Homo sapiens: one gene and its partner. The protein of the gene in region 1 interacts with the protein of each later gene in a pairwise test. Each region holds a gene or a part of one and is shown on either strand. Other genes may lie near its edges.

Evidence for each region.
Region 2: the proteins of DEK (region 1) and GPATCH11 interact in binary tests that used the Homo sapiens proteins (3 or more experiments, as listed by UniProt).

Annotation. Positions count from the first base shown.
Region 1 is NC_000006.12:18,250,819-18,254,742, reverse strand, and holds part of DEK (protein DEK), read left to right. Parts: intron 1-3,924. UniProt on the Homo sapiens protein: Involved in chromatin organization.
Region 2 is NC_000002.12:37,087,387-37,091,310, forward strand, and holds part of GPATCH11 (G patch domain-containing protein 11), read left to right. Parts: intron 1-982; 5' UTR 983-995; coding exon 996-1,054; intron 1,055-2,253; coding exon 2,254-2,480; intron 2,481-3,294; coding exon 3,295-3,336; coding exon of another isoform or gene 3,337-3,340; intron 3,341-3,924.

The DNA of each region.
Region 1 (3,924 bases):
AAGGATTTAGTGTGAGGCAAGGTGATCACTATTTCCTCAGAAGCAATTTACTAGGTTGTTATGACAGATATTTTTATATTTATCTTTTTCTCAGTGGTTTTCCAATTTATTGGTTTCAGGATACTGTTGCCCTCTTAAAAAATTAGTGAGGACCCCAAGAGCTTTTTTTAATATGAGTTATTTTGATCTTCACTGTATTTGACATTAGAACTGAAAAATTTTTATTTTAAAATGTTAAAAATAATATTTTCTAGGAAAAATAACTTTTCAAAAGAATGAAAGAGTGGCATTTTATGTTTTTGTACATCTGTTTAATGTCTGGCTTAAGAGAAAACAGCTTGATTACCATTTGCTTCTGCATTCAGTCTTTTTGTGTTGTTGTTGTTGTTACTGTTGTTGTTACTGTTGTTTTGAGACAGATTCTCACTCTGTTGCCCAGGCTAGAGTGCAGTGGCACAATCTCTGCTCACTGCAACCACTGTCTCCCAGGTTCAAGCAATTCTTCTGCCTCAGTCTCTACAGTAGCTGGGATTATAGGCGTGTGCCACCATACCTGGCTAATTTTTGTCTTTTTAATAGAGACGGGGTTTTGCCATGTTGGCCAGGCTGGTCTCGAACTCCTGACCTCAGGTGATCTGACCGCCTCGGCCTCCCAGAGTGCTGGGATTACAGGCGTGAGCTACCGTGCCTGGCCGCATTCAGTCTTTTGCAATGTATTGTTTTGTTTAAAATCTATGAAGGGCCTGATGCAGTAGCTTATGCCTGTAATCCCTGCCCTTTGGGAGGCCGAGGCAGGTGGATCACTTGAGCTCAGGAGTTCAAGACCAGCCTGGGTGACAGAGTGAGACTGTCTCAAGAAGAAATTAGCCAGGCGCTGAGGCACGCTCGTGTAATCCCAGCCACTTGGGAGGCTGAGGTGGAAGCCTGAACTCAGGAGGTCAGTGCTGCAGTGAGCTATTTTCATGCCACTGCATTCCATCCTAGGTGACAGAATGAGATCCTCTCTCAAAATAATAAGTATATGAAGAAAACCGAGCCTCACATAAAAAGAATATTTTTAAAGTCTTTTTAGATAATTGTGTATATTCTCTTTTTGATACCATACAATACCAAAACTCTACATAAGTTGTAGTTTCCTAAAGATTAGTTGTAATGTTTAATGTAGGTCTGAAACCAGGTTAATTAACTTGGGTCTTGTATGTATAGTTTTGTAACATGCATTTACCGCTTGTAAATATTGGTTCCCTGAATTATGTCTTCCAAATGTTGACGTTTTATTGAACACTGTCATTAAATCATGCTCATTAATATAAATATCATCTCATCAGAAAAATTACTTAGGCCTTGGTAAACTATCAAGTTCACAGTAGTAGATGTGAATTTTCCAGAATTCTAGTTCCCACTTGAAATCATAACGTTTATCATTGGCGATAAATGCTCTCAGTTTTCCTTGAAGTGACAAGCTCACCTTGTTCATGTTTGAAAACATCTCTATCAAATACCTAAGTCTGAGTTAGCCATATTTGTTCTTTTAAAAAGTGGTGTTCTCTGGGAGGTGAAGCTTGCAGTAAGCCGAGATCGTGCTGCTGCACTCCAGCCTGGGCGACAGAGCGAGACTGTCTCAAAAAAAAAAAAAAAATGTGGGGTTCTATGAAAAAGGAGCTTGGAGCGTGTTTAGCTCACAACTCAGATACACAAATGCTTTTCCTTCAGAAAACCATTGAACTTCAGTTGTAGCCATATTTATGTATATCTTCCATTTTGTCACAGATATTAGAAAGACATGTACTTGAGAGTTAACACAGTATTTATTGTTTTATCAAGGACATTATTAAGTGAAACCATTTGCCTTGTTTGTTTCTGCTGGTGTGTGGTTGTGAGGAATACAGTGACTAATATATGTTGCTTCCTTGATTAGTACTAAGGTGCCATCAATTTTACCCACCTTTGCTTTCCTTTGCTTTTGCAATTAGTACAAATGTCAACACAGTGAAAAGAGCAGATAAATAGTGTTGCTATTATTATGAAAATAGTTTCTACCTCGGAGACTCCGAAAAAGGTCTCAGGAAACCCCAAAGTCCTTGAACCACACTGTGAGAATCTGTTTTTTCTTGTCATATAGAATCTTAACTCTTATGTCAGTTTTTCATATGTGATTCTGTGATGATTACTCCTTAATCTGATAGTATCGAGCTCAGGCTATTTTCTTTTTTTTTTTTTTTTTTTTTTTTTTGGAGACAGCGTTTTACTCTGTTGCCTAGACTGGAGTGTTGTGGTACAATCATGGCTCAATGCAACCTTGACCTCCTGGGCTCAGGTGATCCTCTCACCTCAGCCACCCAAGTAACTGGGACTATAGGTGTATGCTACCATGTGTGGCTAAATTTTACATTTTCTTAGAGACAAGGGCTCACTATATTGTCCAAGATGGTCACAAACTCCTGAGCTCATGTGATCCTCTCACCTTGGCCTCCCAAAGTGTTGGGATTACAGGCATGAGCCACTATGTCTGGCCTAGAGCTATTTTCTATGCTACAAGAAGTTTCCTTTTTCTCCTCTTTAACAATTTCTCAATGGTTTAATCAACACAACATTAATCATTGATTGCTTTCCTATCCTTCTATTGTACTTTACCTTATTTTATTTGTTAATCAGATTTTGTTTCCAAAAAGAGATAATGCTGTTGACACTGGATTTTGATTAATAGATTTAACTATTTTTGGAGTAGTATAGGAAAACTCTAAGGCATTTGTATATTACTACTTTTTGGATTTTGGTTTTAAAACTCCTCGTTTACTTTTGGGAATTGCATTTTTTTTTTTATTGGCTGCTTGAATAACTTAACATCTTTTCACTTTCCTGGATAGATTTATCCAGAACCTGTTTCAGTCCTCATACTAATAATTCGATATACAGATTACATCCTTGCTACCTGTGTCTGGTTTCTGAGCTGAGATTGTGAGGGATATTATGTTTTTCTAATACATTTGAGACCTGGAGATCATGTAACAAGTAGTAAGAGCTTGGACAGTGAGAGTTACCTTTTCTCCAAACGGTGCTATCAAAGAATTTATCCACATGGATTAAGGTTCTGATAATAGTTGTTAATGGTAGTATCTCACATAGCAAGGATATGTGTATGCATTCACGATTTCTTATAGAGAATCTTCTCTGAGAAATGTCTTTGATCCACCAACTTCAAGTTCCTGGAGTGACCTAATTTTGCTGTTTCCTAGTGTGCCTTTAGAAGGGTACGTTGTTGGAGCAATCTAGGTTATCCTGTGGTTTCTTTGCAGAGAGCTCAAGAGTACCATATTATACAAAGCAGCCACTTTTTCTTAATTTTTGTGTAGGTGACAGTGACCCCTAGACTGGAGGTTCCTGGGAGGTAAAGGACCTGTCGTTCTAGTCTCTGCAAGAAAAATATTGCCTAAAGTTATCACAAACATTTACACAATTGGATACCTTAAGGTTATGTTATGGAATTTTACCTTAATGTTTCTGCTTATTGCAGAAAATAAAGTAACAAAGGTAGAAATAAAAGAATATAAAAGATGCTCAATCCCAGAAATAAATATTAATTCTGTAATGCGCATTTTAACATTCTTGATGTTAGGTAATTTTATGGTTTTCAATTTTAGAATTTAGCAAAACTTCCTTGAGAAAGCACTTAAAAATTAAATTTATTGTTTACTGTAATCAACTCATTTTCATCAGGTGATCTCTGCTTTTAATATACATGGTTTAATTGATTATCAGAATAATAGCAGCATATTCTTAGTTTCATAATTAACATACTTATCATTTATTGTATACTTATAGGCATCAGTGATAATATGAGCCTGACATTGTTGAAAGTAGAGGCCAGAAGTAATGAATATAAACCGTATAGTTCATTCATAAATTCAGGATGTATAATTGGTA
Region 2 (3,924 bases), on another chromosome or scaffold:
CAACATTGACATTGCCTGTGAACCTGCTAGAAATGCAGAACCTCAGGTTCCAGCCCCAGAATCAGATTCTGCATTTTAAGAAGATCTCAGTGCAATTTGTATACACAATAAAGTTTGAGAAGTACTTTTGTAGAAAATTACTTTAACCCTTTAAGGGCCAATAATTACATGATTTTAACTATTTTGGATAGAAACTGTCCCTCAAAATATTTCCACATAAGTGAGTTGTTAACTATATCAACTTCCAAATGAGCAGCTTGGACATAAAGTGCTGTAGAGAAAGGCCTGGAGTGGTCAGGAGAGGTTTCTGAAGGGAGGGTAGCCTTGGCCTACAGGGAAGAAATGTTTGTACTCTGTTCAGAGGGCAGTGAGGAGCCATGGGGCTTGAATAATGAATCCTTAGGGACAGTTGTGTCAGATTATGAAGGACAACATCTCATGCTTTGCAAAAGTGACTGGTCCCCCACTGCCTACAGGGTCAGGTTTAATGAAGGATTTGAAACAGGCTAGTAACGTGACCTGACTTGTATTTAAAAACAAACAAGCAAATAAACAAAAAACCTCTGGATGGGGTGCAGAGAATGGACTGGAAGAGGAGACCAACTAAGAAGCTGATTAAGAAGCTGTTGTAATAGTTCAGGTGAGAAAAAAAAAGTGCCTGAACTAAAGCAGTGGTCACAACTGTAGAGAAAACGTCTGTGAGGAGTTTTATGGAGGAAGACTTGACAGCTTCATAAGAGGTCAGGAAGAAGGAGATAATGATGACATCAACATGGAAACACAGGGGATGTAGAAGGCTGGGGAAAGGGGAAAGAAATGAGTTGTTTAGATTGTTGAGTTTGAAATGTCCACAGATAAAGATGTCCAAAGGGCACTTGAATATATAGTAGAGCTCTAGAGACAGCTCATGGCTGCAGATACAGAAAGGTTTATTTCCATTCTGATAAACTAAAAAAAAAAGTAATTATTACTTTATTTGTAGATACTATAGCCATATGAAGTTGAACATGGCAGAAGAAGAGGACTATATGTCTGATTCCTTCATTAATGTCCAGTAAGTAAATGTGCACACCCAGTGCAATGATATGTATAAGATGTGTAGATTAAGAAATGACATTGATTTTATTTTATTTTATTTTATTTTTTTGAGACAGGGTCTCATTCTGTTAGCAAGGCTGGAGTGCAGTGGCACAATCTTAGCTCACTGCAGCCTCAAACTCTCCAGGCTCAGGAGATCCTCCCATCTTGGCCTCCCGAGTAGTTGGGACTGCAGGCCTGCACCATCATGCCCGGCTAACTCTTCTTTTTTATTATTTGGAGAGACAAGGTCTCACTGTGTTGCCAAGGCTGGTCTCCAACTCCTGGGCTCAGGCGATCCTCCGGCTTTGGCCTCCCAAAGTGCTAGGATTACAGGCATGAACCACCGTGCCCAGCCTGACAGTGATTTTAAATGTGCAGTGGGAAAGTCAGTCTTCTTGCTTTATGGAAATACCTCCTATGTCACCATAGAAAGATACTAGAATCTACTTCCTCCTTTTAATGCTAACCATTTTACTTTTGCCCTTGATCCTTTTTATTGCCTTCTTCCAAGGAAATTTACTCCTTTTCCTTTATTACATCATATTGTCTCTTCTAGCTGCTATACAACTTTGTTCTTTATTATTGCCAACATCCTAGAAACATAGTAAGTCTAAACTTACTATATCTGATTTCTTCAACTTCGTGCTTTCCTTATTTTCCTATGATCTGGCACCAGCCTTCATCATTTCTACTAAAACAGCCATTCTTAGAGGTCACTGATTATGTTCTAATATCATAATAACAAAGATGATCATAGAGGTAGTGCCGAAATATTAACTGTTGTCAGGTGAGTAAGTGACAGAGTTATGAGAAAACTTGGCCAGGCGTGGAAGCTCACGCCTGTAATCCCAGCACTTTGAGAGGCTGAGGCGGGCAGATCACCTGGAGTCAGGAGTTCAAGACCAGCCTGGCCAACATGGCAAAACCCCGTCTCTACTAAAAATACAAAAAATAGCCGGGCATGGTCGTGGGCGCCTGTAATCTCAGTTACTCAGGAGGCTGAGGCAAGAGAATCGGTTGAACCCAGGAGGCGGAGGTTGCAGTGAGCCAAGATTATGCCATTGCATTACAGCCCGGGCAACAAGAGCGAAACTCCGTCTCAAAAAATAAAAAAAAAAAAAAAGAAAAGAAAACTTTATGGACTCATCTAAAATAAACTTTTCCCTTATTCAGAGAAGATATCAGACCAGGATTGCCAATGCTAAGGCAAATCCGAGAAGCCCGTCGAAAAGAAGAAAAGCAACAGGAAGCCAATTTGAAAAACAGGCAGAAGAGTTTAAAAGAAGAAGAACAAGAAAGACGTGACATTGGGTTGAAGAATGCACTAGGCTGTGAAAACAAAGGGTTTGCCTTGCTCCAAAAGATGGGCTATAAAAGTGGTCAGGCACTTGGCAAGAGTGGTAAGTCACATGTGGAAATAAACAGGTATTCCTTACCACCTAATTGTGACTTATGGATAAGGACCAAAGCTGATGCTTTAATCTTTATCTACACAGAAATTATAACAACTTAGGCTTTTTAGTCTATTATGTATTAACAAGCCTTATGGAGAGCTTTTCATCATCCCACATCCATTTTAGATACCACATGTGCCATCAAGAGCTGCTTATCAGCCCAGCTTAGCTGAAGGCACTAACAACCTAGATGGATGTGGCTTACAACAGAAGAAGCAAAGAATGGTGATAAGTGATGGGTTGAGAAGTGCAATGGCTAAATACATTGAAACAACACTGAGGATGATGGCAAGACTTTGCCCTGCTTGCTCTGTACCTGTGGCAGCCATCTGAATGACCGTCCAGTTGGAGAGGCTCAATTCTCACCTCTCTTTTTAGGAAGTGAAACTGCTTATTAAGCTAGAGAGGCTATATATTTATAGTAACCTCTGTAAACCGTTTTTCTTTCCTTTATCGTAATTGCTTTGCTTTCACTTAAGGCTGTCACCGTCTTGCACCAATAATATCAGTGTTGTTCCTTCTTAAAACTCCACCTTCAGGTGGCATAGGAGGCTGTGAATCAGCCTTTTTGATGAGTAGGTATTTGAAGACAAGGTAGATAATTGATTATATATAGAATATATATAGATGTTCAGATTTCAATTTTGAATATCATTGAAACAGGAGGGCATATGCATAGAGCATTGTAAAGTTGCATACTTATACTGTTCTGTAGTTTGAGGAAAATTTTCTAAAATAGTTTGTATTCATTCTCTTTAAGGGGGTGGTATTGTTGAACCAATTCCTCTCAATATCAAAACAGGTACGTAATTATTTTGGAGCATATTTGCCAATAATAATAACTTACGCTTAGGTCTACCACATATATTTGCTCAATAAATACTTTTTTTTAAATGATAATACTGTTACAGTTCAGTAAAATTTTGTTAAATTTCTAAACCTCTTCAACCAGAAAAGAAATAAGTTTTAGTGAGTATAAAATAAAATTTAAACCACACGAATATGGGAAGAACAAATCATTACAACCATTGAATGTGCAATACTGTTTTTGTCCATTGAAATGTCTTAAAACTGTTTTGCTCTGGGAGGCCGATGCAGAAGGATTGCTTAAAGCCAAGAGTTGGCCGGGCGTGGTGGCTCACACCTGTAATCCCAGCACTTTGGGTGGCCGAGGCAGGCAGATCACCTGAGGTTGGGAGTTCAAGACCAGCCTGACCAACATGGAGAAACCCCATCTCTACTAAAAATACAGAATTAGCCGGGCATGGTGGTGCATGCCTGTAATCCCAGCTACTTGGGAGGCTGAGGCAGGAGAATCGCTTGAACCCAGGAGGCAGAGATTGCAGTGAGCTAAGATTGCGCCATTGCACTCCAGCCTGGGCAACAAGAG